7 linked regions of the Homo sapiens genome follow. The protein of the gene in region 7 purifies or fractionates together with the protein of the main gene of each other region. This does not show direct contact. Each region holds a gene or a part of one and is shown on either strand. Other genes may lie near its edges.

The links.
Region 1: the proteins of BLMH (region 7) and DSG1 purify together in Homo sapiens (affinity purification with mass spectrometry, with the first as the bait; one large-scale study listed by BioGRID). This does not show direct contact.
Region 2: the proteins of BLMH (region 7) and CLIC4 fractionate together in Homo sapiens (co-fractionation; one large-scale study listed by BioGRID). This does not show direct contact.
Region 3: the proteins of BLMH (region 7) and G6PD fractionate together in Homo sapiens (co-fractionation; one large-scale study listed by BioGRID). This does not show direct contact.
Region 4: the proteins of BLMH (region 7) and AACS fractionate together in Homo sapiens (co-fractionation; one large-scale study listed by BioGRID). This does not show direct contact.
Region 5: the proteins of BLMH (region 7) and CASP14 purify together in Homo sapiens (affinity purification with mass spectrometry, with the first as the bait; one large-scale study listed by BioGRID). This does not show direct contact.
Region 6: the proteins of BLMH (region 7) and LZTFL1 fractionate together in Homo sapiens (co-fractionation; one large-scale study listed by BioGRID). This does not show direct contact.

What each region holds. Positions count from the first base shown.
Region 1 is NC_000018.10:31,355,832-31,360,104, reverse strand, and holds the end of DSG1 (desmoglein-1 preproprotein), read right to left. Parts: 3' UTR 859-4,273; downstream 1-858. UniProt on the Homo sapiens protein: Component of intercellular desmosome junctions. Involved in the interaction of plaque proteins and intermediate filaments mediating cell-cell adhesion.
Region 2 is NC_000001.11:24,838,916-24,842,288, forward strand, and holds part of CLIC4 (chloride intracellular channel protein 4), read left to right. Parts: intron 1-944; coding exon 945-1,126; intron 1,127-1,857; coding exon 1,858-2,022; 3' UTR 2,023-3,373. UniProt on the Homo sapiens protein: In the soluble state, catalyzes glutaredoxin-like thiol disulfide exchange reactions with reduced glutathione as electron donor. Can insert into membranes and form voltage-dependent multi-ion conductive channels.
Region 3 is NC_000023.11:154,540,100-154,544,285, reverse strand, and holds part of G6PD (glucose-6-phosphate 1-dehydrogenase), read left to right. Parts: intron 1-1,833; coding exon of another isoform or gene 1,834-2,022; exon of another isoform or gene 2,023-2,074; intron 2,075-2,894; exon of another isoform or gene 2,895-3,048; intron 3,049-4,186. Other genes in the region: IKBKG (NF-kappa-B essential modulator), read right to left, coding at 1,834-2,022. UniProt on the Homo sapiens protein: Catalyzes the rate-limiting step of the oxidative pentose-phosphate pathway, which represents a route for the dissimilation of carbohydrates besides glycolysis.
Region 4 is NC_000012.12:125,063,541-125,068,262, forward strand, and holds the start of AACS (acetoacetyl-CoA synthetase), read left to right. Parts: upstream 1-1,894; 5' UTR 1,895-2,044; coding exon 2,045-2,177; intron 2,178-4,722.
Region 5 is NC_000019.10:15,051,989-15,055,831, forward strand, and holds part of CASP14 (caspase-14 precursor), read left to right. Parts: intron 1-217; 5' UTR 218-263; coding exon 264-290; intron 291-1,493; coding exon 1,494-1,643; intron 1,644-1,744; coding exon 1,745-1,970; intron 1,971-3,169; coding exon 3,170-3,286; intron 3,287-3,367; coding exon of another isoform or gene 3,368-3,441; coding exon 3,442-3,545; intron 3,546-3,843. UniProt on the Homo sapiens protein: Non-apoptotic caspase involved in epidermal differentiation. Is the predominant caspase in epidermal stratum corneum. Seems to play a role in keratinocyte differentiation and is required for cornification.
Region 6 is NC_000003.12:45,824,936-45,829,121, reverse strand, and holds part of LZTFL1 (leucine zipper transcription factor-like protein 1), read left to right. Parts: intron 1-506; coding exon 507-683; intron 684-1,662; coding exon 1,663-1,766; intron 1,767-2,789; coding exon 2,790-2,808; 3' UTR 2,809-4,186. UniProt on the Homo sapiens protein: Regulates ciliary localization of the BBSome complex. Together with the BBSome complex, controls SMO ciliary trafficking and contributes to the sonic hedgehog (SHH) pathway regulation. May play a role in neurite outgrowth. May have tumor suppressor function.
Region 7 is NC_000017.11:30,288,969-30,293,671, forward strand, and holds the start of BLMH (bleomycin hydrolase), read right to left. Parts: upstream 2,977-4,703; 5' UTR 2,852-2,976; coding exon 2,839-2,851; intron 2,541-2,838; coding exon 2,343-2,540; intron 515-2,342; coding exon 405-514; intron 1-404. UniProt on the Homo sapiens protein: The normal physiological role of BLM hydrolase is unknown, but it catalyzes the inactivation of the antitumor drug BLM (a glycopeptide) by hydrolyzing the carboxamide bond of its B-aminoalaninamide moiety thus protecting normal and malignant cells from BLM toxicity.

The sequences.
Region 1 (4,273 bases), on a different chromosome or scaffold from region 7:
GAGTCAACACATTGAAGCTTTGATGAAATGGAGTAATGACAACAATGTGAGCCCATGAGCTGGAAGGATGAGAAGGAAATGGTCAGAGGCTGTAGAGACAGAAACTGAGGCATTCCAGGTACCAATATGCCAGGTTATGAAAAGAAATGACAGCTGAGTGGAGGGGGGAAATGGAGGTCTAGAAATGAGAATCTGGGCCTTGGGTGATTCATCCACGTGGATGTTTAAGTTACTATGAACACTCTCAGAAGTTAAGAAAGTCACAAAAGACTTTAGGCCAGGATATTGGAGCCTTCATTAAAAGTAGAGACATTATGAAGAAGAGAAGAGAGGGAAAGGATCATACAAGTCTGAAAGAGGTAAGATTTTGTGCAAGATGAAGTTGATAATAGTCTGGAAGTGGCATTGGAGAACAAAAGGAGATGCATCCCAGTAAAGATGAAAGGGTATGATTTAAAGGGCAAAAAAGAAGAAAAGTCATTTTAAAAGAAATAAAATGCTGGTGTAGGCAAAAATAAAAATGCAGAGTATGAAAGAAAGAAAGGTAAAAGTATAAAGATGCTACAAGTATTAAATAAGAACTAAAAATGCAGCTTTTTATCATCTGTTCATTTGTGGGGCTAACCACCTGGTCAAGGCTGGGCTCTAGCATCTATAATTAGTGGTCCAGAGAGTAGGTTCCTCAGTACACATTAAAAAAAGATAGCTAGGAAATGGAGAATGAAAACATATTTTAACATTGTGAAAATAAAAGAATTGTATCTCCTCCAATACAGGATGATAATAACTAGATTTGATAACTTTGGTTTTACAGTCTAAAACCTCCCCCTTGCTTACAATTCAGAAAAGATAAGGGAGGCATATTAATAATTTTATTGCTGTATGCATAACTCTTTGGAAATTACAAATCAACTTAAAAAAACGAACAGATAACCAAGCAAGAAACTAGCACCCAAATAATCCAAAAACTTTTATATTGAAACTTGAATAAGAGAACCTTGTGTTAAACACCACCAGAGATGAATATTAGAATTTTAAAATGCTTGTAAAACGACAGCAAAAGAAAAATAAGTTAGACTAGGTACAGTTTGACGATAAAGCATTTAGTAATTCAAATACAGCTAAACTGGGGAGAGAATGTAGACAAACAAGATTACACATTGTTTTAAAATTATCTGATGGAAAACAGGTTGATCTAGTCAAGATTTGTCCTAACATAAATTGAATAATCCGGAAGTGGAAGACAGATTTGATTTCAAGGAGAGTAGCACTCTACTGTGGACTGCTGTATCCTAGTGCAATGTGAAATGGGTCTTAAAAATCCAGAAATTGTAAAAAAAAAAGTTGGAATTTATGAAATAGGCATGGGAAAATGTGGCAAATACTTTTAAAAGTTTGCTTTGGGTCTTAAATGTCTTTCCAAAATAGTCATGGCCATTTATGCTAAAGATTATAATGCCTTTCAACTCCAGCAAAAGTTAAAGGGTGTCATATATTTTGTACCATGACAATCAAACATTGGTATAAATTCAGAAATAAATTGCCAGATAACTAAAAACATCTACTTACTAGAGTAAAAAATGTAATTTTTGAAGACATATAATTAAAATTTTGTCAGAACATTTTCTTGAATAAAAATTATGATGCTAAAAACTTTATACACAAATGTAGAACAGATGTCTAGATGAAGATATATAAATAACCCTAAATATGTACTTTTTCTTTTAATTTTTCAGTGCAAATGCAATTACATCAGACAACATGCTTAGAAGTAAATAATATGTAGCAGATATATCTGTAATTCAGTGTCAAAATTAGCTTGAGATGGTATTTTGGTTGATATTAAATGGTAAAGTATTTATAATACACTGATTTTTGCTCCTAAAGATTACCTCTTTAGACAGTCAGATAGATATTTTATAAACATTGTGGTTTGTTTTCAAACCATACATACATAGTATTAAATTACTATTTCTTTTTCCTTTTGTTAAGAGCAAGTTGATCTGAAACTCAGCTTGAATCCTAATTATAGTATTCACTTATAAAATAATTTCCATATCTCTTCTTGGTCTATGACATGATGTATATGATCTAGAGTAAACATCTAAGAAGAAGAATGAAGTTCTGCCCAAAACTTCTTCATTGAAAAATGACATGCCTTTAAATAACTACTAAAATCGTTGATGTCTTGAAAAGGGAATTTTAAAATTTAGGACTAAATGGAAAATCAGTGTGCAATCCTGGAAGAAAAAATTAGTTGGAAAGTATCTTCCCAGAAAGATAGGTGACTAATACTTCAGTTTTTCTTGTTTTTCCCATCAATTTGCAATCCTGGAAGAAAAGTTTGGTTAGAAAGTATCTTCCTAGAAAGATAGATGACTCAATGACTCAAATGGCCATGTTTTTTCTTGTTTTTCCCATCGTTTAACAGTGTTTAGGAGTTCAGATGTAACTAAATTGGGGGGATCTTAACAACCAATGGATTTTGACAGCAACAGTTATTAAAGACAGTGATTTTGTTGTTTGCAAGACAACCTAAAAAATATCTCTGGAAGATATCAGATGTCTTAAGAAAAGCTTGTGATGATATTTCATATCAAAACAGTAAGCAAGTTTCCTGTGGTCAGCTACCATTCCCTTTAATAAATTACTTAATTAATTCATTAATACTTATTTCTATTCCTTAAAACTCCTGGACCCAGGCATACTCAAGTATGTCTTAATAAATACCTTTTGACTTTATTCCTGGAAAGATTACCCATCCTTAATGTGGCCCCCTAAGTGTCAGAAAAAGAAAAGACTCCCTTTGAATGACTTTATTTATACTTCTGCATTTAGCATACTACAGACTATCAAAATTTTACATATTCTACAGAGTTAAAAGAAGATGTATACTGTGGCTTTTAAAATATTAGCCTTATCTGTTGTTACAGAGCAAAATAGCTCTAGGTTCAGTAATTCACTCCTATCCTCTTTTGACCAGTGGAGGAAGTTGAATATTCTTTGGCTTTGTAATTTCCTGGGAAATTTGAGTAATTGGGGTAAATTCTTTAAAAGTTGTATATAATTCACAACTCCAGGGCAAATTTTTTTCTAATTTTATTTTGTCATATAGAGTTTCATTTTAGTGAGCTTATAGTAACATTGTATTTAAGAAAGAAAAAATTTCTGTACCATGCAATAGTAAATTTACCTTTTTCTTAGAATGCTTTAATTCTTTTTAGAGATTTTTAATTGGGTAATACTACATAGCAAACACACAGAAATGATATATCATAAATAGGACATTACTAAATTTTGAAACTAGAAAAATATGTTATACTATATAATTTGGACACTACCTATAAATCAGCATATATAAGCCAAGATCTTATTGACAAATCAAATCAGGAATTTAAAATTTATGCTAGTGAGAAAAATTAGAGGGTGAGATAAACTAGCAGAATAGGTTTCTATTATTATTTCATGCTTATCAACACCATATTGTCAATTCTGCTAAAGGTTCCTGGTTGATTCCTGCAAAATGGCAGCAGAGGTTTGCTAAAGCAACCACTACTTTACTTACTAAAAGCGAATAATTAGCATGGTATTACTTTACAGAAGAATTCTTTTCCAACTTTCACCATTAAACATTTTACATGTTCTAAAAACATTTTTTTAGATCCCCTTAAAAAAAAATTCCCCAAAGCTTAAGCATACTACAAGCTGCTGCTTCTTTTTTTTTTGTCCACAGCTCGGCCTATGTAAATCATTTTAACTTCAGAGCTATGTAATAAAGAGCTGGATACGAATGAATATCACCTACTAAAAACAAAACCTGAAAACACAATTCAGTTCCCATCTGCTTACTTGGAAGGTCATTTGCCACTAGTGATGACAACCATGTCAGGCCTCACTTGCTTCAATTCGAGAAGTAAACTTAGTGAGTTTTGCTTTCTTAAGTCAAAACCACAGTGGTAAAGGGAAAGACGAGTGTGATATTCCTCAACCTCACCAGTAAGCAATATTCGTCAAGACTACATCTATCACTAAACACACACTAGAATCAGAAGAATCCTTGACTCCACAGGAGATTTAACTGAGGCCCCACATTAAGGTTCAGGCTCAGGCATTGCTAGTTTACCCTGAAGAAACCTCATCCTATTGCCACTCTCTAATGGAATTTTCCTCCTAGGAAACACTTCCTAATTTGGAATTTATTTTCTCTAGTGCAATAATTAAGGTAGGAGTGCTTGATGGCTTGTGGACTTGACTATGTAGTCAAACTTAAAAA
Region 2 (3,373 bases), on a different chromosome or scaffold from region 7:
TCTGAATCATGACAATCAGAGCATCTTAATCTATTTGGTTAAAGAGGCTCCCAGTTCAGTATTGTAAATTGAACTCCTTAATCTGACCTTTGTGTTTTTTGTATAAGATAGTGCTATTCTTGGCTTCCTGTGAATTATAAGACAGTTTTGAAAATCTCAGGTTTTCTGTTTGGATTGTTTGAATTGGTATTTCTTAACACATTTCTTACTGATAAATCAAAATATTCCTGGGGGAGCAGGAATTAAAAATGAGGGCAAAAATCTGCCTCTAAGATTTTTTTAATCCCTAGATTTGAATTAATATGCTTGCCTTTTCTCATCCATTTTTCCAGTTTAAATGTCAAATGTGTTGGACCATTTGTGTTCATGTGTGGGACATTTAGTTGTTAGCAAGTTTTTTTTGAGACAGAGTCTCGCTCTTTCGCCCAGGCTGGAGTGCAGTGGTGCTATCTCGGCTCACTGCAAGCTCGGCCTCCCGGGTTCACGCCATTCTCCTGCCTCAGCCTCCCGAGTAGCTGGGACTACAGGCGCCCGCCACCACGCCCGGCTAATTTTTTGTATTTTTAGTAGAGACGAGGTTTCACCGTGTTAGCCAGGATGGTCTCGATCTCCTGACCTCGTGATCTGCCTGCCTCGGCCTCCCAAAGTGCTGGGATTACAGGCGTGAGCCACCGCGCCCGGCCATTTGTTAGCAAGTTTTTACAAATACCACTGCCTGACATTATTATGCTTATTTATACTTTTACCTGAACAAACTTGTTTCATCCCCTGCCCCACCTAATTGAGCTCTAGGAGAGCAGGAGCCTTGTCTGTTTTGTTCTACAGTACCTTGTTTCAGAGTAAACATTTTTAAACAGTTATTGACTCAAAGAGTCTGCTTCTCCTTGGGGACTTGAGTGGTTTTCCTTCTTACAGTATTCTCATCTCTTTTTTTCCCCCCCAAGCACTGGAGAGGGGTCTCCTGAAAACCCTGCAGAAACTGGATGAATATCTGAATTCTCCTCTCCCTGATGAAATTGATGAAAATAGTATGGAGGACATAAAGTTTTCTACACGTAAATTTCTGGATGGCAATGAAATGACATTAGCTGATTGCAACCTGCTGCCCAAACTGCATATTGTCAAGGTAGGTCTGTAGGGGTTGATGTCGCATTGCCATTACCTTGTATTGTATTTACTAAAGTGGCATTTCCTTTGTGCTCAAAACATTTCTGATTTTATATGACTAGTTGTTTAACTCAATGCTGTTTAGGCAATAGTTGAAGCACCCTAGAGTTAGTTAAATGGAAAATTATGTCTTAAAATTGAGGAATATAAGAAAGATGAATATTTTTTTTTCTGTGACTGCATACAAATTCAAAGATATAATGCGTGACTTTGAATTGGAGTTTGCCACACTGACTTATGTTATCAAATTCTGTTCTGTGATCACACCTTGCTTTCTCTATTGAAGGCAAAAAGTATTGAGCATTTATTATATGAGACACTGGGCTGGGCACATTGTTAAATAGAATAATAATAAGCGCTAGTTGTAAATAAAGACCTAAGATAACAAAAACAGATCTAAAATAGCATATGTGTGTTGTGAAGTATTTTCCAGTGATTATACTTGGCTGTCTTTCTGGATGTCCAAGGCAGTTATTTGCAGTCACTGTCACACTTCTAAATCCCTGGTGTAGCTTGCAGTCTTGGTCATTATTTAAAACTCTGGTTAGAATGATGGTGATGGACTTTTTTTCATATAGAAGCAGTTCTCAAAGATTTAGAGCATTAATTATTTGCTCCAAAATCAGAGATATGTCTAGTTTACAAGACGTGGAAATAAGTCTGTTAACTTTTGATCTCTTTGTATTTCAGGTGGTGGCCAAAAAATATCGCAACTTTGATATTCCAAAAGAAATGACTGGCATCTGGAGATACCTAACTAATGCATACAGTAGGGACGAGTTCACCAATACCTGTCCCAGTGATAAGGAGGTTGAAATAGCATATAGTGATGTAGCCAAAAGACTCACCAAGTAAAATCGCGTTTGTAAAAGAGATGTCTTCATGTCTTCCCCTAAGAATACGCTTTTCCTAACAGGCTACTCCTTCCTGTAGAGCAGAAATTGTATTTTGCACGAACATGCAGTTATTGAAGATTAGGATCAAGGATAGACAAGGTATAGTAGTTATCTTAAAATATACACTCCTAAGCAGTATTATTTTAAAATCCTTTACCCTGGCTACCTCCCCTACCCGGGTTCCCCTCTCTTTAATTTGGAGACACTCCACCACAAACTTTTCACTTTAGAGGTAGCTTGCCATCTCTCAGGAGCCCTCACCATTGTGTCCATTCACTGTGTATAGATGGCAGAACTTTTGAGGTGCAATGTTTAATTGTTAAAAATAGTAGCCACGACTTTATCAGGCAGCCCCAAACTGGTGCATAATGCATGGTACAAGAAATATTTATGTATTTTTTGGAATTTTGTAATATTTAGTAAGAGTATATGAAAGGATTGCTACTGTATCAGAAATATTGTTTCAATTTAGTCTATCCTGGATATGTACTAACGAATATTACCACCAGAGAAGAGAGCTTTCTACAAAAGTCACTACAGATTTTGCTATATTGCTTTGTAGATAGATTTTTACTTTTGCCTAAAAGCATTTATCCTTCATACCAATTGTAACATCTGACACCATGTAGAAGCTAAAAGTTTAGAGGGAGTGAGGGTTTTCTCAAGACCTTCCTCAAGCATTTTATCTTTAGAAGAGAAACTGATGGGCACCTGATACTCTGTCTAAATACGTTTGTTATATGTGTTTTGCCCTGTGCCATTCATTTGGAACTTTATTGCATTCTTTATTTTAAAAAGCTTGTTTTTACGTAATCATAGAGCTTGCTATTTGTACATCTGTTGAGCAACACTACATAACTGATTTTTAGTTGACTTAGCTATAGCAGTACAATGATTAGTAATGTAAAAATTAACACAGAAATTAACCTAAGGAATGAAGGGTGGGTTTGTCAAAATATCAAGTAAATTTTTGTTTCTAAAGTACATTTAATGTAGATGACCTAAAGAATGCGTTATCCATCCTATATAAAAGAAAGATAAAACACAGGTCACCAATTTTCTCATTTCACCCCATTTACCTTGTATAGAGGATTGTTCATTCCTTTGGGACTAAGTTATAGTTATGGTGAGTGTGTATTTACTGTAGTTTTGCCTGATCTCACTCATTGCACTTCCTGGAGTTAAATTTTCCAACAGCCATGTTGAGGAATAGCACTCTGCATGTTTTTGTTTTGTTTTTCGGGGTTTTTTTTAATTGAAGCCCTAAACCAGGAATTATTTGTGTTCTAACAGGAGGATGAACTTGCTGA
Region 3 (4,186 bases), on a different chromosome or scaffold from region 7:
GTAGGCTGAGGCAGTAGAATCGCTTGAATCAGGGAGTCAGAGGTTGCAGTGAGCTGAGATCGCGCCACTGCACTCCAGCCTGGCGACAGAGCGAGACTCTGTCTCAAAACAAAACAAAACAAAAAGGCCGGGCGCAGTGGCTCACGTCTGTAATCCCAGCACTTTGGGAGGCTGAAGCGGGTGGATCATGAGGTCAGGAGATTGAGACCATCCTGGCTAACATGGTGAAATCCCGTCTCTACTAAATAAAAAATTAGCCAGGCCTGGTGTGGGCACCTGTAGTCCAGCTACTCAGGAGGCTGAGGCAGGAGAAAGGCGTGAACTCGGGAGGCGGAGCTTGCAGTGAGCAGAAATCGCAACACTGCATTCCAGCCTGGGTGACAGAGTGAGACTCCATCTCAAAAAAAAAAAAAAAATAACAAAAATTAGTTAGGTGTAGTGGCACCCATCTGTAATCCCAGCTACTTGGGAGGCTGAGGCAGGAAAATCGCTTGAACCCAGGAGGTGGAGGTTGCAGTGAGCTGAGATGGCACCATTGCACTCCATCCTGGGTGACGGAGTGAGTGAGACTCCATCTCAAAAAAATAAAAATAAAAAGAGCCATACCTGCATCAGCCACAAACCTTAACAGCCAGGACTCTGACCGTTAAACCCTTAGTCCAAGAAGCAGACTGGAGGAGAAGGTAACTGAGGTTGCTTTCTCCATCCCCACCCCATGCTGTCACAAGGCACTGCAACAGAGCAACCCAGGCCACAATGATAGCTTATGACTCCTGGCCTTCAGCTCTTATTAGACACCTCATTGAGAGCATCCAAGCTTGCTGTGTGAGTTGGAGCAAGTGTCTTCCTTTTCCTGAACCTCAGCATTTCGTGTAGCAAATGACAGCTTTTGAAACGAGGGCCCAGGGTCCTTAGGCTTTTCCAAGCTGATTTTGTCATTTCACTGCCTCCGCCTGTGGCCAGCTTCGGGTTGGGCAACTTTGTTTTGTTGAAATCAGTAGGGTTCCCCTTTGCTCTCCTCTGTTCTGAGAGTGACAACCTGAGGCTTTCAAAGCAGAAATAGGAAGTGCCAGCTCCAGCACTGTGGGTAGGGGACAAGGGGTCCTCTCTCTGAAGAGCCTCGTGGTTTGTTTTTTCCTCTTCCTGCTGTGGGGGAGATGGGAGGTGGCGTGCTCAGGCAGCACCTGGAACAGCTCCGGCTCCCAGGCTTCTTCCACGCCTGATGCCTCACTCGGTGCGGGAGGTAGGCAGGGTGGCACTTGAGGGCACGTGATCCTAGAATCTGCTGTTCCAGGAAAGCAGCCCATTCTCCGTTCATTGAGCAGACAGCGATTGGGTACTTCTGGGCCACAGCAGCCAGTCCCTGCCCTCCTCATGGGACCTATGTGCTATTGCGGCCAGGGAACCACGGCAAGTAAGCAGACCAGCAAGAGTTCAGGCTGACGTGTGTTTCAGAAGATACACATGGGCCCTGTGTCCCCAGTCCCCCAAAGCGCATAGATCCCACAAAGAGGGCCGGGAGAGCACAAACACAGAAGGAAGAGCAAATGCCCGGAGCCCCGAGTTGGGAACAAGCTCAGCATGACCTAGAAACTGAAAGCAGGCAAGTGGCTGGCAGACCCACAGCCTGGGCAAGCAGGACACCCTGGGGCAGGCTGGACCCACGTGGCCTTCCTCTGTCCCTTCCTCCTCCCTGGCCAGCTTACCTCACACTTGCCCACACACCCAGCTTCCTTCCTGGGGGCCCTGATGGCACCTCAGAGTTACCAAGTGGGCCACTTCCTGCCTTCTCAGGACTCCCACCCCTACCAGAAAGGGAGCCGAGGTACTTACTGCCCCCTTCCAGAAAGCTCTGGCCTTGTAGACTAGTGTGCGCCTGGAACAGCATCTTTCCCCACCTGATGGGACCTCGATGATGCTGGAGAGCTTCACAGGGAGTGAGGGGAAGAGACTGGGATTGATAGTCTGCGGGGTCCTCACTTCTCTGGGCCTTAGTTTCCCCACCTGGATCACAAGGGCCATGGGCTTGATGGGCGTTCAGGACGCATCCCAATGATGGGCCTGTGGGAGGGATGACCCAGCGGCCCCCGCCTCCCCTTTCCTCAGAACATTTCTGGGCTGACTTCCCCATTGGTCTGATAAGATTCTTGCTGTGTCATGATGATGTTGGCACTCCCCCAAAGCCCCGGTGACTCATGAGCCCCCGGGTATAGCAGGGAGGCCCTTTTGTTGGTTTTTCAGCTGAACTAACTCAGCAGCCCCCAGGTTCTCTGGCCCCAGTGGCCAGGAACCAGCTGGGCCCCTGCCAAGGCCCAGGGCTCCACCCAGGGAGTCTGGGCAGGTCCTTAACCCCAGTGACCCTTGGGGATGGGATGGCCCACCCCCGCTGGCCCTCCAGCAGGCATCGTGCTCTACCATGAAACCCTCATGCCAAGACAAGGGCTGCAGCGATTTCGGTTTATAAAACAGACAGGTCATGGCCCAGGTCCCTTTGCCCTGGCCTAGCCAGATGTTGGTGGCTAGAGATCTTCATCATGCCCTGCTTCTACTAAGTCACCTTGTGTCCTTGGGCAGATCCCTCCCCTGCTGTGGTCCTCAGGAAAGAGGAGGGCGTGGGGAAGATGAGAAGCTCCCAACTGCTTTTCACTAAGGACCCCTTGAATTGCCCCCACCCACATGGCACGAGTAGACTCTTGACCAAGCTGTCAGGTTTCCCGATGTCTTCCCATGTTTGTTCCTCCAGAAAGTCCCACTAGAGCATCGCAGCCAGCTGGGAGGGCAGGGCTACCCCTGAGTCCTGAGGAGAGCAGCTCAGTCCGGCTCAGCTCAGCTTAGCTCCCTGTCACCATGGGAGAGAGCGGCCTGCCTTACCCCACCCCTACTGTCCGTCTTACCTCACCTCGCCTCTCAGGTGACTTGGAGCCCAGCAGACGGTCGGTCGGTTGCAGGGCCTGAGCTGAAACAAGGTGAGCCGGTTCAATCTCTAGTTAATCCCAAAGGGAGCAGCAGGAACAAACGGCCTGGAGCGTGGGGTTGCTGTGACTCAGCAGACCAGTCCCCTGCCACCAGTACCTTTCTGGAGTCTGTCCCGATGCCTCCCAGTCTTCCGGAATTTGGTCATGAGCAAACATGACCTGCTTTGAGTGAGGCTTAGAGGTATTTGCAGGCTGTGGTTCTTTCCGTTTATTTCAGGGTCCAGTTAGTTCCCAGTAAGCTGACCCTTTCTGTGTGGGGCCAGCCGTGAGTTGATGTGACATGGGCAACGTTCCCCTCCCCAGCCCCACTGATGGCAGGTGCTGTGAGGAGCTGAGTAGAGGAGCTCCTACCCCAGGGCGAGGGGTTGTCTGCTGGACTTTGAAGGGTGCAGCAGTGAGAGGTCCGTGTCGCTGTAGTCCTGGCACCGAGCTCACCTGAGGAGCATCAGAAGTGGAGCAGGGCCCCTGAAGAGCGCAAGCACACAAGGCACCCACACCATAGCAGTTGCCCTCCTGGAAGCCCTGTGGTGGCTTCCTAACTGCCTGGCTCTGGGTGAGGGCGTTTGACCTGGTGGCATGGCCCCCATTCTGTAATGGTTTGTAGAAATGGACCCATCCATGGTTGCAGTGCCTGATTGCTTCGAAGAGCATGTGTTTTTTTTTTTTTTTTTTCGTGACATGGAGTCTTGCTGTCACCCAGGCTGGAGTTTGGTGGCGCAATCTTGGCTCACTGCAACCTCCGTCTCCTGGATTCAAGTGATTCTCCTGCCTTAGCCTCCTGAGTAGCTGGGATTCCAGGTGCCTGCCACCACATCCAGCTAATTTTTGTTTTTTCTTTTTTTTGAGATGGAGTCTTGCTCTTTCACCAGGCTGGAGTACAGTGGCGCAATCTTGGCTCACTGCAATCTCCACCTGCGAGGTTCAAGCAATTCCCCTGCCTCAGCCTCCCGAGTAGCTGGGACTACAGGCGCGCACCACCACATCCAGCTAATTTTTTGTATTTTAGTAGAAACGGGGTCTCACCATGTTGGCCAGGATGGTCTCAATCTCCTGACCTCGTGATCCACCCACCTCAACCTCCCAAAGTGCTAGGATTACAGGCATGAGCCACCGCGCCTGGCCTGTATTTTTAGTAGAGACGGGGTTTCACCATGTTTGCCAGGCTGGTCTCGAACTCCTGACCTCAGGTGATCCACCCTCCTCAGCCTCCC
Region 4 (4,722 bases), on a different chromosome or scaffold from region 7:
GGCTTTTTTACTGCAGCGTGTTTTATCAGCAAGGTGTTTATGACTTGTATTTTGTGCCGACCTCCTGTCTCATCCTGTGACTTAGAATGCCTTCACTGTCTGGGAATGGAGCCTAGTAGATCTCAGCCTCATTTTACCCAGCCCCCACTCAAGATGGAGTTGCTCTGGTTCAAATGCCTCTGACATTAAGACCAGCTGGCTGTTAACCTTAACTTTAGCCAAGACAAACCCCAATTCAGTTACTTACCTAGGGATGGGTCTTAGGCTGTAGACTGCTCTCTACCATTCTAGAAGCAGGAAAAAAGACCTCATCTTCCCTGTTGGAAGCGAGCTCAAACTCCATAAAGGAGTTACCTGCCTTCCATTGTCATGGAAGCAGGAAACCTTGCCTTCCTTGTTGGAAGCAAGTAAAACTGCAAAGAAAAGAGTTGTACAGCAAAATAAACTTTAGATCTCCACCAAATTTTGGGAGATCAGGGAGGCTCTGGAGGGGGTGCTCTCAGACCTGGGCTCACTCTTGTAATCCCAGCACTTTGGGAGGCCGAGGCGGGTGGATCACCTGAGGTCAGGACTTCAAGACCAGCCTGGCCAACATGGTGAAATCCCGTCTCTACAAAAATGCAAAAATGAGCCGGGCTCGGTAGCTCACGCCTGTAATTCCAGCACTTTGGGAGGCTGAGGCGGGCGGATCACCTGAGGCCGGGAGTTGGAGACCAGCCTGACCAACATGGAAAAACCCTGTCTGTACTAAAAATACAAAATTAGCCAGGCGTGGTGGCACATGCCTGTAATCCCAGGTACTCGAGAGGCTGAGGCAGGAGAATTGCTTTAACCTGGGAGATGGAGGTTGCCGTGTGCCGAGATCTCGCAATTGCACTCCAGCCTGGGTAACAAGAGCGAAACTTCGTCTCAAAAAAACAAAACAAACAACAACAACAACAAAAAAAAAAACACGAAAAATTAGCTGGGCATGATGGCGTGTGCCTGTAATCCCAGCTACTCAGGAGGCTGAGGCAGGAGAATCGCTTGAACCTGGGAAGCAGAGGTTACAGTGAGCTGAGATTGGGACATTGCACTCCAGCCTGGGCGACTGAGTGAGACTCAAAAAAAAAAAAAAAGCTAAGGCGGGGAGGGGGCCTTCCAGGTCATAGGTAGATAAGGGACAAATGGCTGCATTCTTTTGAGTTTTCAATTAGCCTCTGCAAAGGAGGCAATCAGGTGTGCATTTAACTCAGCAGAGGGGTGACTTTGAATAGAATGGAGGCAGGTTAGCCCTAAGCAGTTCCCAGCTTTTCTTTTCCCTTTAGCTTAGTAGTGGGGCCCCAAGATTTATTTTCCTTTCACAAATGTGTATTTTGATACCCATTGGCATACTATGTATATTATTGTATTATACTATGACATTATCTTGTGTATGTACACGATGTACTTATTTGTTAATCGTCTCCCGTCTTCCTCACACCTGTACCCCTCCTCTCCTGTTGACAGAGAACAAGAATTTTGTTTTGTTCGCTGCTGTATCCGCAAAGCTCCCAAAGTCCTCCGAATGCCGCAGGCTCTCAGTAAAGACCTGCAGGAAGAAATAGCGAATGAATGATGTACACGTGTAGGAAACAGCGGGCTCGGACGCCTGGCTTCTCCGGCTGCCCTAACGCCCTCCAGCTCCAGGTGAGGTCGGGGAGCTGGGGCCAAGGCTCGTGAGCGCCCCTCACCCCCACGCCCCCCGGCCGCGGGCGCTGGAGCCGGCGGCTGCGAGCACTCCTTTGAGCGGCGCTGCACTCAGCGGAGGGTTACAGGCGGGAGGGCGGGGCCTGGAAGGGGGCGGGGATTCGAGGCGGGGCCTGCGGGGCGGGGCCTGGGCCAAGCGGCCCGCAGGAGGCGGCGGCGGCCGTTCAGTCCCTTGTTCCCCGCCGCCGCCGTCGCTGACCCAGCCCGCCAGGCGCTCCTGACCGTCGCTTCCTCCGGTCCCAGGTCCCCGGCCCTCGCCTCAGCCCCGGCCCCTGGTCCCCAGCCCTCGTCGCAGCCCCGGCCGCCCGCCGCCGCCATGTCCAAGGAGGAGCGCCCCGGTCGGGAGGAGATCCTGGAGTGCCAGGTGATGTGGGAGCCTGACAGTAAGAAGAACACGCAGATGGACCGCTTCCGGGCGGCTGTGGGCGCCGCCTGCGGCCTGGCGCTGGGTGAGAGTCGGGCGCGCGGCCGGGCCTGCGGGGGATGGGCGGGAGCCGTGCAGGGTGGTTGGGTGGTCTCCCCATGGCTAGTTTCACGCTTCTGGGGCTGGAGGAGCCACTTGATGGCGGGGAGGCCTTCTGACTGCGGGGTTCCCCCCAGTCTTGGGGAACATCACCCCTCCACAGCACCTCCTGGCACTTCCTGACTCTGCAGCGTCTCCTCTGCATGTGGGGGTCACCCTCTCCCCGGGAGTGTCACCCCTCGGGAGGGCCAGCTGCCTGTTGACCGTGTGACCCCTTGCTAGGCTTTCCTACCTGTGAGGTGCTCCCTGGAGTCTTGACCTCCGGCCTGTGGGGGCTTCCCCCGGACATAGGGCCTTTTTGACTTGCAGCTCTTCCTCTGTTTGTGGGGGTCCCTTGCCAGTCCCCAGTGCCGTGCACTCTGTCCCCCTGACCTCCCTCATCTCCAGCTGCCCCTGCTGGAGGCCAGCACCTAGCAGGATGGTCAGGCAGGAGGCCCTGTCCACGTGTCTACACTCCCAGCCCCCAAACAGAACCTAGTAAAAGACTCTCTTTCCACCCATCACCTTGAACCTCAGAAACTGCCTCTCTCGGTGCGGGTGGGGCAAAGGCTCCTTCTCCGTGGGGTAACCGCTCCGGGTGCTCTTCCTGAGCTCTAGCTGGCTTGCCCAACTACCAGCTCCACCCCTCCACCCTGCCTCCCCTAGGTATTCCTAGGGGATTTTTTTTTTTTTTTTTTGAGACAGTTTCTCTCTCGTTGCCCAGGCTGGAGTGCAATGGCGAGATCTCGGCACACTGCAACCTCCGCCTCCCGGGTTCAAGTGATTCTCCTGCCTCAGCCTCCCGAGTAGCTGGGATTACAGGCATACACCACCACGCCTGGCTAATTTTGTATTTTTAGTAGAGACGGAGTTTCTCCATGTTGGTCAGGCTGGTCTCGAACTCCTGACCTCAGGTGATCCGATCGCCTTGGCCTCCCAAAGTGCTGGGATTACAGGTGTGAGCCACGGCGCCTGGCCTCCTAGGGGATTTTTAACTCATGGTCTCCCCTCCTCACCCCCTCCGCTGGCGCAGGGACTCCCTTGTTTCTGTTGGTGGCGTCACTGTTCTTGCTCAGGCTCACAGGGATGGACACCCCAGTCACCTGTGGCACCAGAAGTCTTCTGCCACAGCCCCATGTCGCTCACATCTCCTCCTTTGCAGCCCCTTGTCAGGGGTTCTGGGGCCTCCTTTCCTCCTCACCAAACAGTGGTTGGTTTTCCTGCTTCCTGCTTTTCCATCCATTTGCATCCTGCTTGCTTTGCCAGAGTAATCTTGAAGCATACAGGTCTTACTTTGTCACTCCTTGGCTCAGAAGTTCTCAGTGGTTCCTTGTTGACCACAAAATTGCAGACGGCTGCCTGGCAGCTTCCAGGCCCTCCACAGCAGTGGGGAGCTTCCACAGAGTCATTTTCCTAGGCTAACCCAGAGCTGTTCCTCTCCTTCCCTTCCTCTCCCTTGGAGACAGGTGTAGTCTGTTGCCCCAGGGGCTTCTGGACAGCAGTTGGTAAATGAGTATGTGTTGGATTAGGGCAGCCTGGAGACTCCTGGAAGAAGCAGGAGGCTGCCATGTGGGATTATGTTCTTCCTCTGTGTCACCTTGCCTTGATTCCATCTGTTTCCTCTGCCAGCAATAACAGAATGCTGGTCTGGTGCCTGTCTAGCCCTGATGTTATGAAATAATTTCAGATCGGGCAGCCCTATTAGATGGGTGAAACCACCTTCCTCCGTGGGAAGTGTTGAAGAGAAGGGATTTGTAATCTGACTATCTGGATTTTTTTTTTTTTTAAGCCTCGCTTTTCTCCCCCAGGCTGGAGTGCGACGGCGCAATCTCGGCTCATTGCAACCTCTGCCTCCTGGGTTCACGCAGTTCTCCTGCCTCAGCCTCCCGAGTAGCTGGGATTACAGGTGCCTGCCACTATGCCCGGCTAATTTTTGTATTTTTAGTAGAGACGGGGTTTCACCATGTAGGCCAGGCTGGTCTAGAACTCCTGACCTCAGGTGATCCACCTGCCTCGGCCTCCCAAAGTGCTGGGATTACAGGTGTGAGCCACCGTGCTCGGCCGACTACCTGGGTTTTGAACTAGCTCTACCACTTACCAGCTGTGTGATCAGGAGGAAGTCATTGGATCTCTTCATGCCTTGTTTCCTCATCTGTAAAATGGGCATAACAGGACCTGAGTCATTGAGTGGGTGTGCAGGTGACAGGAGATGGTCAAGCCCAGTGCTCAGCTCTGCCCTGGGTCCCTGGGGTTGTGGAGTAAACATGAGCAAGTGCTGGGAGGGCCCGAGCATGGCTGCGGAGCTCCTTTCCCTCCTTCAGGGCTCTCAGACTGGTGGCCCATGGGCCAGGTCTCATCTCCAGACACACTGTTGAGTTGCCTGCATTTAAAAGTTAGGAGAGGGGGCTGGGCGTGGTGGCTCACACCTGTAATCCTAGCACTTGGAGAAGCTGAGATGGGTGGATCTTTTGAGCCTAGGAGTTTGAGACCAG
Region 5 (3,843 bases), on a different chromosome or scaffold from region 7:
ACATCCAGAAATGGAAGACATCGTGAAATTGTCATTCTAGGGGTGATATATTACTACTTCATGGATTATCATCTATTGCCCAGATCTGTCCACAGACCAAATCCCCACCACTTGAGTGCTATTTGGTCTCAAAAATCCAGATACATAAGCCAGTTTGTCCCCTGAGCCCCTCGGCCTCCCTTTAGAGAACTTTAACCTATCTTCTCTTGACTCCAAGGATCAGACAAGGGTGCTGAGAGCCGGGACTCACAACCAAAGGAGAAATGAGCAATCCGCGGTCTTTGGAAGAGGTAGGCTGGGTGCAGGTTGAGGGGAGGGTGATCATCTGGGGAGAAGGAAGGTGAGGATTTTAATGTTTTGGAAAGAGTGGAGGGACTGAAAAAATCATGATCTGAACTCAGAGCTAGGAGGTACTTTGTAGTCAATCAAACAGCAAAAAAAGACTCAGAGATGGAACCGAAGTTGGGTTGGGTGGTGGGGGCAGTCAAACACAGCTACCTCTGTCTCCAAAGATCAAGTTCTTCTCAACACATTAAAGGTTCTGAGAAGTCCTGCAATAAACAATTTCATGTTGATTTTTTAAAAGATGAAGTTCTTACCACTGGGGTGCTCAGTACGCTGCTTCTGTTCTGGAAAGAACTGTTGACCCCCAATATTCTTCTTCCTCAGACGGGATCTCAGTATTAGCTTCAGAAACTCTGAGACCTCTGCAAGTGAGGAGGTAATAGAGGAATGCTCAGAACACTCTTGGGGAGGATGAGGAGACCTGCAAATCCACAAAATACGACAACTGGAAGGGATCTTCAAAATCACACACACACTCATTGTCTATATTTGGAAACTGAGGCTCAGATGGGAGCAGTGACTTCCCCCAAGTTCATACCAAGCTAGAAAAGAGCTGGACCCCAGGTTGGGTTGCTGTATTTGGGAACTAAAAATAAAGGACACCCAATTCAATTTGAATTTCACATCAACAACAAATAATTATGTAGTATAAGTATATCCCATGCAATATTTGGGATATACTTATACTAAAAAGGTATTTGGTTTTTATTTGAAATTTAAGTGTACCTGAGCATCTTCTATTATACCTGGCAACCCTAAGCCCAAGCCTCTCTTGTTTTGTTTGTTCATTTTTGAGACAGGGTCTCACTTATTGCCCAGGCTGGAGTGCAGTGACAAGATCATAGTTCACTGCAGCCTCAACTTCCCAGGCTCAAGCTATCCTCCCACTTCAGCCTCCAAAGTAGCTGGGACCACAGATGCACAGCAGCACACCCAGCTATATTTTTCATTTTTTGTAGAGACAGAGTCTCACTATGTTGCCCAGGCTGGTCTCGAACTCTTGGGCTCAAGCAATCCTCCCACCTCGGCCTCCCAAAGTGCTGGGATCACAGGCATGAGCCACCACACCCAGCCTGCATGCCTCTTTTGACTACATCTGCTTCTCCTTGAACCTCTCCATGCTGATTTCTGTCTTCTCTTGGCCCCAGGAGAAATATGATATGTCAGGTGCCCGCCTGGCCCTAATACTGTGTGTCACCAAAGCCCGGGAAGGTTCCGAAGAAGACCTGGATGCTCTGGAACACATGTTTCGGCAGCTGAGATTCGAAAGCACCATGAAAAGAGACCCCACTGCCGAGGTATTGGGGTGCCTACTCCAGGCCTGTTTGGGGGAAAGGTACTAGGTTGGAAGTGTAGGCTATGGGGACCCAGCTGAGTCTGGTTCTTCCTCTCACTCCAGCAATTCCAGGAAGAGCTGGAAAAATTCCAGCAGGCCATCGATTCCCGGGAAGATCCCGTCAGTTGTGCCTTCGTGGTACTCATGGCTCACGGGAGGGAAGGCTTCCTCAAGGGAGAAGATGGGGAGATGGTCAAGCTGGAGAATCTCTTCGAGGCCCTGAACAACAAGAACTGCCAGGCCCTGCGAGCTAAGCCCAAGGTGTACATCATACAGGCCTGTCGAGGAGGTGGGGACAGATCCAAGAGCACAGAGTCTGTGGTTTGTTGTTTCTGTTTTGTTTTTTGAGACAGCACCCAGGCTGGAATGCAGTGGCGGAATCTCAACTCACTGCAATCTCCATCTCCCAGGCTCCAGCCGTCCTCCTGCCTCAGCCTCCTGAGTAGCTGAGACTACAGGCTCCCGCCACTATGTCAGGCTAATTTTTGTAGACAGGGTCTGATTATGTTGCCCAGGCTGGTCTCAAACTCCTGAGCTCAAGCAATCCTCCTGCCTCAGCCTCCCACCATGCCCAACCAAGTCTGTGTTTTTATCCAAGCCAGTCCCAGATCCAAAGCCCCAGCTGAAGCCAGGCACCATGGCTCATGCCTGTAATTCCAGTACTTTGGGAGGCCCAGGCGGGAAGATTTTTTGAGGCCAGGAGTTCAAGACTAGCGTCGAGCAATGTAACAAGAACCCAGCTCTATGAAAAATATTAAAGATTAGCCAAGGGCATGGTGGCATGGGCCTGTGGTCCTAGCTACTCAGGAGGCTGAAGTAGGAGGATCACTTGAGCCCAGGAGTTAAGAGGCTGCAGTGAGCTATGATTACACCATTGCACTCCAGCCTGGGCAACAAAGCAAGCCCCTGTCTCTAAAAAGTTAAATTAAATTAAAAAGCCCCACTGCACATGGCATACCACAAAAGCATCCTTTTTTTTTTTTTTTTTTTAGACGGAGTCTTGCTCTGTCACCCAGGCTGGAGTGCGATGGCACAATCTTGGCTCACTGCAACCCCCACCTCCCAGGTTCAAGCAATTCTTCTGCCTCAGCCTCCCAAGTAGCTGGGATTACAGGTGCAAGCCACCATGCCTGGCTAATTTTTGTATTTTTAGTAGAGATGGGATTTGACCATGTTGGTCAGGCTGGTCTCAAACTCCTGACCTCAGGTGATCTGCCTTCCTCAGCCTCCCAAAGTGCTGGGATTACAGGTGTGAGCCACCGTGCCCAGCCCTTACCTTTCTTTTTAAGAGGCGACATCTCGCTCTGTCTCCCAGGCTAGAGTGTAGTGGTGCAATCATGGCTCACTGCAGCCTCAAGCTCCCAGGTTCAAGTGATCCTCCTGCTTCAGCCCCCCAAAACACTGGGAATACAGGTGTGAGCCACCCTGCCCAGCCCCTTTCCTTACCTTTCTCTCTGACTTTGCCTCCTCCTCTTCTTGTTGTTTCAGAACAAAGGGACCCCGGTGAAACAGTAGGTGGAGATGAGATTGTGATGGTCATCAAAGACAGCCCACAAACCATCCCAACATACACAGATGCCTTGCACGTTTATTCCACGGTAGAGGGTATGAGCTCCCAGCTGGCCCAGGGATCCCTCTGCTCTTCCCCCTCTCCTGCCACTCCCAACTCCTGAACCTCTCCTCCAGGACCCACGCCCTTCCAGGATCCCCTCTACCTACCCTCTGAAGCTCCCCCGAACCCACCTCTCTGGAATTCCCAGGATACATCGCCTACCGACATGATCAGAAAGGCTCATGCTTTATCCAGACCCTGGTGGATGTGTTCACGAAGAGGAAAGGACATATCTTGGAACTTCTGACAGAGGTGAGTTGACAAAAGGTAGCTGGGACCACCGCCCAGGCCAAGAAGGGTGCAGGCGGAGGGGGCTGAGCCTCCTCCTAACCCCTCTCCATTTCCCTCAGCTCCAAATCCAAGCCAGATCTCAATACAGAAACTAAGAAGCCCACTTTCCAACAACTTTCCCAAATGCAGGGACTCTTAAAAGCCACAGTATGGGAGATAAATTTCTATAAACAAATCCCCCTTGGATATAAACAATGTTTGGGCAAACTGTTTTCTTTTAATGTTTATATGTTTTTATTGCAAATTATTTAAAAAATGC
Region 6 (4,186 bases), on a different chromosome or scaffold from region 7:
CTTAAAAATTTAGAAAACCATGTAATCAGTAATTGTGCTCTCATATTATTTCCTTGTAAATAATGACTAAAACATATGTCTATTAAGTTTTTGGTATAAATTATATTACTTTTATCATTTTTTCTATCATTTTGAAGAATTCAAACTTCTTTGAGGATTTTTTTAAATTTGGCTTTTCAAAATGAAACCTGTTTGCCATCTCAACCCTGGTACACACATCTTGGATGGAAATACCAGCAGTTCACAAATCATATTTTATGTATTTGGAATTCAGTGGCTACTGAGTGTCGGCTGTGTGCAAGACACCACGTACCCAGGGCTGACAATGGACTGGCCTGCTGGTGACTCTGAAGGGGCTGGCACTTACCTAGGCTGGCAAGGGAGGCTGGCATGCACACAAAACATACATCATTTTTTTCATCTCCTATGATGTTGAATCACCATTCTAAAACAGTTATTTTTAGAATATCAACATGAAATTACATGCATGCATTTATTTTTCATAGGATTTTATAAAGGCCCAAGACTTAAGTAACTTAGAAAACACTGTCGCTGCCTTAAAGAGTGAGTTTCAGAAGACACTTAATGACAAGACAGAAAACCAGAAGTCACTGGAGGAGAATCTGGCGACAGCCAAGCACGATCTACTCAGGGTTCAGGAGCAGCTGCACATGGCTGAAAAGGTCAGAAGACCATGTTTAAGGGATTTGTCTGTTAATGCATGATTAATGCACACAGTATAGAGGAATACATGTGGCTAAGATAAACGTTGGACAACTGCAAATTCAGATTATTTTTTCTCAAGGTATTAGCCAATATGTTCTAAAGATTAATCATTTCCGGGCACTGATATTCTTCCATCTTTGGTACTAAAATATCTGTGATAATAAGACATCTCCTCTCCCTCTATGGTGTAGTGAAATGCTCCTCTGTAGGTGGCTTGAATCCTGCCCTACATCCCACCATGTTGCTCTTCTGCTCCTTCTTCCCACAGCCTGCAGAGGGATGAGGGACTGTTTTTTTTAAGGACTTCTATACTTTTGTCATAATTTATATAAAATATGTAGAGAGCTAGATTCTTCACTTTGGGGATTAGACTCTTAAGAATATGGGAGTTGAGGCCGGGTGCAGTGGCTTGTGCCTGTAATCCCAGCACTTTGGGAGGCCAAGATGGCAGGATTGCTTGAGCCCAGGAGTTCAAGACCAGCCTGGCCAACATAGCAAGACCCCCATCTCTATAAAAAAATTAAAAATTTTTTCATATAAAAAATGGGAAAAAAGAATATGGGAGCTAAAATTTAACTAAATTAAAAATCATTTTGCTAAAATACACTACTATGGGACTTGGGAAAAAAGTGTGCTTATTTTACAGGAAAATTAGTTTAATATTTCAAATAGATTTATCATATCCAGGGCTTGAGTTATTTACCAACACTGTACTTGGGAAAATGTTACTATTTTATGGCTTCTCATTTGAAAGAATATATTTTTAAAGTTTGGATAGTCTTAGTTTTATATAAATGTGTCCTTTAAGGAAATTAGAAAATCATTAGCAAAATACTAGTAAAATTCAAGCAAAAAAAACTACATATTTTTATCGCATTTGTTATCTCTTTCCTTAACTATTTTTTTAGTAATGGGCTGACATTTTTTACTAAGCAGGAATTAGAAAAGAAATTTCAGCAAACAGCAGCTTATCGAAACATGAAAGAGATTCTTACCAAGAAGAATGACCAAATCAAAGATCTGAGGAAAAGACTGGCACAGTAAGCCACACTGATCCCGCCTTTGGATTTCTCTCTCTGGATTGATGTTTGTTCTCTGTTAAATCTAAGCTTGTTCCAGAGAGGTCAAGCCGGTGGTAGTTGCTGGATCATTTAGTCCAGAAGCCTTCATTTGAGGAAAGTGGAGGAGCTCTGGCCTGACCTTATCTATAATGCCCACCAGGGCTTCTTTTTAGGTTCATCTAGGCCTTTAGACTCACACAGGCCTACAGTAAGCTGCTCTTGGCAATGGATTCACTTAGCAGGATGTCAGACAGGAAACACAGCAAGCTCGCAGGGCAGCATTAGGTAGTTCTCTTCTCCTTGGTGGTATACTCTAAGCAGTCCAAGAACTGGTCTTACTGTTCCCCTAAATGACAGTTTAAGTTGGAGAGAATGAGATTCATGCAGATGGGTGTCATAGCCAGCTTGGCTTAGAAGTCCGTGTTCTACATAGGATTAGTATCTCTCTTAGCAGTCACATGATACCCAGTTAAGGGTATGTCCAGTTAAAAGAACTCATCGCACAGGGGGAAACCTAAAGTGGTGGCTCCCACCATGTATTTATAGTTCATTCATAGTCCTCCAGGTCCAGATGTGGTCATCAGATGTTTTGCCTGGAAACTGAGTTGACATTTTACCTTTATCAGAGTTCCAGGGGAGCAGAGCTAGAAAGGGAATTCAAGGTGAGATTTGTCCTTAGAGAAGTAGATTTGCTAGCCCTTTACTCATATAGTCGTATCAACTGTTCTTGTCAACATGATGATTGAGGTAATTATATGAAGTTATCACAGGTCTAAATGCCAAATATACAGACTTGGAGCCTTAGCAGTGATCTGGCCTATCCTCCTACCTGATGTAAAAATCCCCTCTGAGTCACCATCAAAACAAAGTTGAATGTGTCCAACTTCTACCGTAACAGTAATTTGAAGTGAGAAATATAGTGCCACTGCTTCAAGTAAACTTATTTGGTAATAACAACAACAAAAGGTATCCTGACATTGTGTTCTTAATTTATATCTCCAGATATGAACCTGAAGATTAAAACTGAAGATTTCCTCTGGAAGCTACCACATGCAAACATACAAGCAGTCTCACCTCAGGCATGTATTTTGAAAAGCATTTTGTCATATCCCCTCTCCTTATTTTTCTAATATTTAGACTTTGAATATTTAGAACTAGAGTTCCTATTTTCAGCTAGTTGAAAACAGAGAAAACCTAGTGATTCTGTCTGGTCATCCCACACACCTCTCTACTGAGTGCTCCAGAGTCTTAGCTCACATGCACTGAGAATTCTTTACAGCAAAGAAGAGATTTTTAGAGTGGGAAGAAGAGGCTTATCCTTCTGCATTAGTATAAAGAGTCTGTATTTTTAATAAATGTTAAATAAGCTAACAATGTTTGTACTTATGCATTCCCCATGGGTAAAAATAAATAATAGCATTGTTAAAGATAGTTATTACCAAAAAAAGAGAGTTATTACAAATAAATATGTCTCTTTATTTTTAAAAATGAAATCTTAATTCATTTACTCTATTTGATGATAAACTATAAATTCATTGAAAATGTGAATTCTATTATGGGTAGCCTTTTTACCAATTATAAGGAAAATTTACAGCAGTGAACATGAACATTCACTTAGCTTCCTCAGTCTCTCCATCTTAAAGATCATTTATCAGAGGAGGTTCAGCATTTTTTGCAGCATAACTTTTCATGAGTCTGTATTACTAATGGATAAGTCAAATCCATCCTGCACTTCTACAGTTTAGAAAGTATCTGGACTCAGAATAAATGTAATATTTATACTTGTTTCCAGAATGTTATTTTACATTTTATGTTCAATAAGAACACTTTTTAAAAGACGTATATTCAACATAAAATCAGCTATCAGACTTCAGATTAGACTTTATTTATGTGGGTCTATAATAATTGTATTTTCAAGAGGTTTTCACTATATTTGTATTGGCCTGGTTTTCTCAGACGATTTTGGACAAATCATTAGAAACTGGGCATCATATCCACAGTTATGTAAGGCAGTGATATACTATAAGGATAAACAAAGTCAAGTCCATAAAGCAATAATCCCTCAGAAGGAAAGTCCTTACTTTTCACATATTAATATTTAGTAATTTTTCCTGCTTCTAAAAGTGAGAGTATCACACCCTAAATGAACACTGTCTACTAAGAGACATCATTCCATTTCCACAAATGAAGATTTTATTCCAAGAAACGAGTTTACTGATTGGAGCATAGGGCTTGTTGTTATTTTTATTCAAGCTTTTAGTAATAGCCTTGAATTTATTATTTTTCTTATAGGCTTTTTGTTAAAATAGTGAAGGAACAAATGTTAAAGGGTAAGATAATTTCCCTGCAAAAGGACACAGAAGGCAGTCTTAAGAAGATGAATGGATGAGAGAAGGGAG
Region 7 (4,703 bases):
AAATAAATAAACAAATAAACAATCAAATAAAATTATTTACTGTTTTTCAGACAAGTTCTTGAGAGGGAAATTAGGTCCTAGAAAAGAACAAATAACCTAAAAAGATGTTAAAAAGGGAGATATATTGAATTGAATATTGAATATAAAATTTAAAATTTTAAATAGACAAGCAAGCAGTAAGATGAGTCAGTAAACTTATTTCATTGCAAAAAAATGGCCACCTACCAACCAAAAACAGTTCTGCCTTTGAAAGAGTCAACTTTTGATACTCTGGAAGTCAGAATAAAAGGTGTCTCACCTATTATGAAAGGGCAGGCTATAACTGGAAAAGCTACAAAAGAAGAGGCAGTCCCTACCAAGGCTGATATCAATACAAAAAGAATCTTGCCAGATCTGTCCCATACCTTGTCCCAAAAAAACAGGTAAGATTGGCTAAACTCAAATTCTTCAATATTTAACTTTTTCATGAATGGAAGCCTCATAACATTCAGACAAGAAAAGATCCAGCATCGCCCTGAAACAAGAAAGCACATCAAGAAATTATGAGGGTTCACATAGACTGCACTGCTCCAACTGTATTTCCCACCAATGAACTCATGACACGATCTGGACAATTCAGAAAGAGTAAATCAGAAAGAGCAGAAAGATTAAAAACAAAACAAGAAAGGTGGTAATTATTATTAGCAATATATATGCAAAGGTTTAATATCTTTAACACAAAAACACTCTTTACGTATCAAATAAAGAATCCATTTTTCAGAGTAATGCCTTCTCCAAATTGTACTCTACTTCAAAATAAATTAACTGAGAGCGCCATTAGAAAAGTCTTTTAAGGTCTTAAATACAGGGAAATTATCTCTTTTCTGAGGGAAAATTCTGAGGGAAAAACTTTGACTTGTATTGGGTATAACCTTTTTACTAATATGAAAATATGTTTATAATATATTGGTAAGTGAAAAAGATAGGTAGCTTACATAACAATGTATAAGGTATCAATGCATATTAAACACTATTAAACACACACACACACACAAAACTTGACAAATATACAAGAAAAATATTTACTTGGTATTTACAAATATTCTACATTAAACAAAAATAATTTTGTAACAAGAAGAAAACTCTAGTTAACTATAGTGTTTTATGAAAGTCACTAGTGCCTATTAGTTCGTCTTTACCTTACATTTACCTGTATGTCACCTCTCTTCTATATGCTATATATTTCTAGTAGAGGGGATCTGGATGCACTGGTGATGTGAAAACTGCATGAAAATAAACTACACAACTCACATGCTATTTGGATCTTTTGTATGTAAAAGTGACACTGCAAAATGTGTAAGACCTGACCTGTTCCCTAACGGGTCACTGCAATCTAAACTATGTAGGACCACTGTGACATTACTAACTGGATCATCTGTAGCCTGAGAGCCCACACCACTCCAAGCACTTTCTTCTAAAGCAAAACATTAATTATTGTAAGGTCTTGACTTTTTCCTTAACATTTAAAAAATCAACTTTATTCAGGTATAATGTACATACAATAAAATGTACTCACGTTAAATGTGTGCTTTGTGAGTTCTAACCGACTCTAAACAAGCACTGATGTGCTTCCTGTCCGTATAGATAGACTGGGGGGTCGTTTTTAAGTATAGAAAGACTTTAAAAAATCCGTTTAGTACAATTTTGTTGTGAGAATGTGCTCCTTATTTAGATTGCTGGATATCCAATCTTTCACTATACCTGTTTTTTCTGAGAGTGGTGCTAGAAAGCAGATAGCAAAACGAGACTTCTTGACCAGCAAGGCATGAGAACAGAACTTTTTTCTGTATTACAAACTGATCTACTGGTGGGAACTGAGCCCATCAGCACATTAGCTTCAGTTGTAACCAAGAAGCATATTTAAAAGTAACATCTGATGACATTTTAATGTAATTACATTGTATCTTTTCTATTTCATAGTATAGGGCCTTCAGGGCATTTCTGGGGAGTCCTCCAAAGATATGAACATTTTCACATGTTCTGTTTTGTGACCAAGACCATACATCTCCAAGACACGGGCTACAAACCACACAGCATTGGAACATAATATAGTCAATTACACTCAAACGTATACTCATGGACATGTCACTTTTGTACTCTAACCGCATGTACTAACAAGCCACAGAACAGCAAAACAAACCACATGGGTAATGTTCTTAGACCTGCCTGTACCTGTGCCTCATTCTTTACGAATTTACGACCAGTTCTTTCAGTACGAATTTAAGACCACTCTTAAATAAGACACCAAAATGGGACGCTGTCAGGAAGGTCAAGGAACGTATGGGAGAAGTGGAAGCCCACACCTGAGCTCTTCTGGTTGGTGATTGGCTTGCCCTCCTGGGGCACGGCGTGCTGGAACACATGCTGCGCGCGCTGCACCGTGGCCCGCTTCAGACAGATGTCCAGCAGGTCGTGGGTGGTCCCGACATTCTGGGCAAGTACGAACTGGGGGTCGGAATTCAGTTTCTGTATCAGAGCAGCTACCTTCTCCGAATTCAGTCCTGTTGGGAGACCAAACAGGATTTTAACGCAAAAAGAGGGGGAAAGGGCTGATCTGGGGCTCCCGCGTCCCGAATCTAACTTCGTAAGCGCATCCTGGGGTGCCCGCTGCAGCGGGGAAACCCATAAGCGGCATCCTCCTCCAAGGAGCTGTCTCCCTCCAGGCCGATCCAGCCTGCCCCGAAAGCTCCCTCCCCGCCATCGCCAAGGGTCCCAGCCCCCGGCCTTCCCCGCCGCCGGGCCTCACGGGGACCGCGGAGCTCCTCCAGAGGACCGCGGCGGGGGACGGCGGCACCTCACCCGAGCTGCTCATGGCGCCCACGCTGCCCGGCGGGGTAACGGTAGCTTCCAGGGTCCTTGGGCGAGCGCCGGGATTGCGCTGCGGCTCGCTGCCTAGGGGGCCCGACCTGTCTCTCGCACCCGGAGCGCCGGAAAAAGGAAACCGGCTCGGCGGCGGCGGCGGCGGCGGCGGCGGGGAGGCTGAGGCTGGGAGAAACGGGGTCCGCGGAGGGACAAAACTCCCCCCTCGCGTTGCTGAGTCAGCGCCGTCGGGGCTGGCCCCGCCCGGGGGAGGGCCGACGGGGGCGGCCTAGCTGACGCGCTGGGTCCGCCAGCGCCCGGGGGCTGAGGCCGCGCCTGCCCCCGCGCAGGACCGCACAGATGGTCTGCGCGCCAGGGCGGCGCCGGCGCCTTCTCCCCCTAGGTTCCCGCCTCCGGGCCGCGCGGGCGCCCTCCCGGGATCAGGCCCGCTCCAAGGAGGGAGGCTGACGGGTTCCCTGTGGGCCCAGACCCCCAGTACTCTAGCATCGGGGAATCGTCCCCAGGAAGCCTTGTGAGAAGCCAAAAGGGAGCTCGAGGCGGGAGGGAGGAGCTGAGAGGTCCCATAATTAAGCGTCGGGCTTAGGACGGGTCGATATGTCACAAGGAATGCACCCGAAGGCTCTTCCTATAGGCTTCGTTTGCTGACCAATCACTGCATTCTCAATGGCAACTTGTTGCTTGGATTCTCATCAGAAGCAAATAATTGTCTTTGAGGGGGAATGGGAACCAAGCTCTTCCCCACCCACTCCAAAGCTACTACCAGAGTTCTACAAATAGACATCTGCTCATTTCAAGAACACTACCCATCTGGTCTTCACGGAGTCCACGAGTGGCTCCTGTATAGTCCAGCATGTCCCGTTGGGTTTAACTCAGGAGGATGACAGAGGCTAGCCGTATGCATCAATATTGTTTCGCCGAGTTCTCTACAAAACTAACTGATGCTCCCCCTCTAGGCTTTCAAGATAACTCAACAGTTTCCCAAAGTTTTGAGATTGTAAAAACCTTGTTTTTGTTGATTCCGTGTTTCATGCCCTGAAATCTCAGCCCTTAGTAAGATGCTGGGATAGAACCCACAGAGAGTAAAACAAAAACACTGAAACCCTGTATCTGCTATTCAAAACGATGAGGTTGAGTGTGTGTGTGTGTAACCTAGAATCTAGGTCTTCTTAGATTGAAAATCATCGCAGTTCTAAGGAACTCTGATATCTGGAAAAATCCATACTCAGGCACCAATCAGTCATTTGAGAAAGCACGGTTTCTATGTCCCTAGAGAGACTCGGCTAAAAATTGGGGCTATAACATAGCAACTATCTTAAGTGGGCCCATCAACCATCCTATTCTGAGGTTCTTTCAATATCTGAAAAAGAAGAGGCTGAAAATTATACAGAAAGAAATCACTGGTCCTTTCACAAAATGATGTTCAAGCATCCTGCCCAATTCAAGTCATAAATTTTTATTCAGTATCTAACATGTACTAGGCACTGGACAAACTGCTGATGACATAGAGACGAACAAAGCTTAATCTTGCCGTTAAGAAACTCAATGTAGTAGGAAAGAGATGCAAAACAACTTTTAGACTATCTGTAGTAGCATACCAATAGTGCTGTAGACTGTAGAAGCAATGAGGAGAGCACTGTCAATTAGGGCCAAAGGGTGCCTGAAAATAGAAGTGACAAGAGAGCATGATCTTGAAGAGTGGATGAGATTTTTACAAGTCAAAGAACAGGAGAAGGGCATTCAAGGCACCAGCGAAGGCGCAGTGAATAAAATCATGTTCAAGAAAGGGTGCATCATAATCGGATGTGGCTAAGAGCAAGGCATGTTTTGGGAGCAGAGGCAAGGTG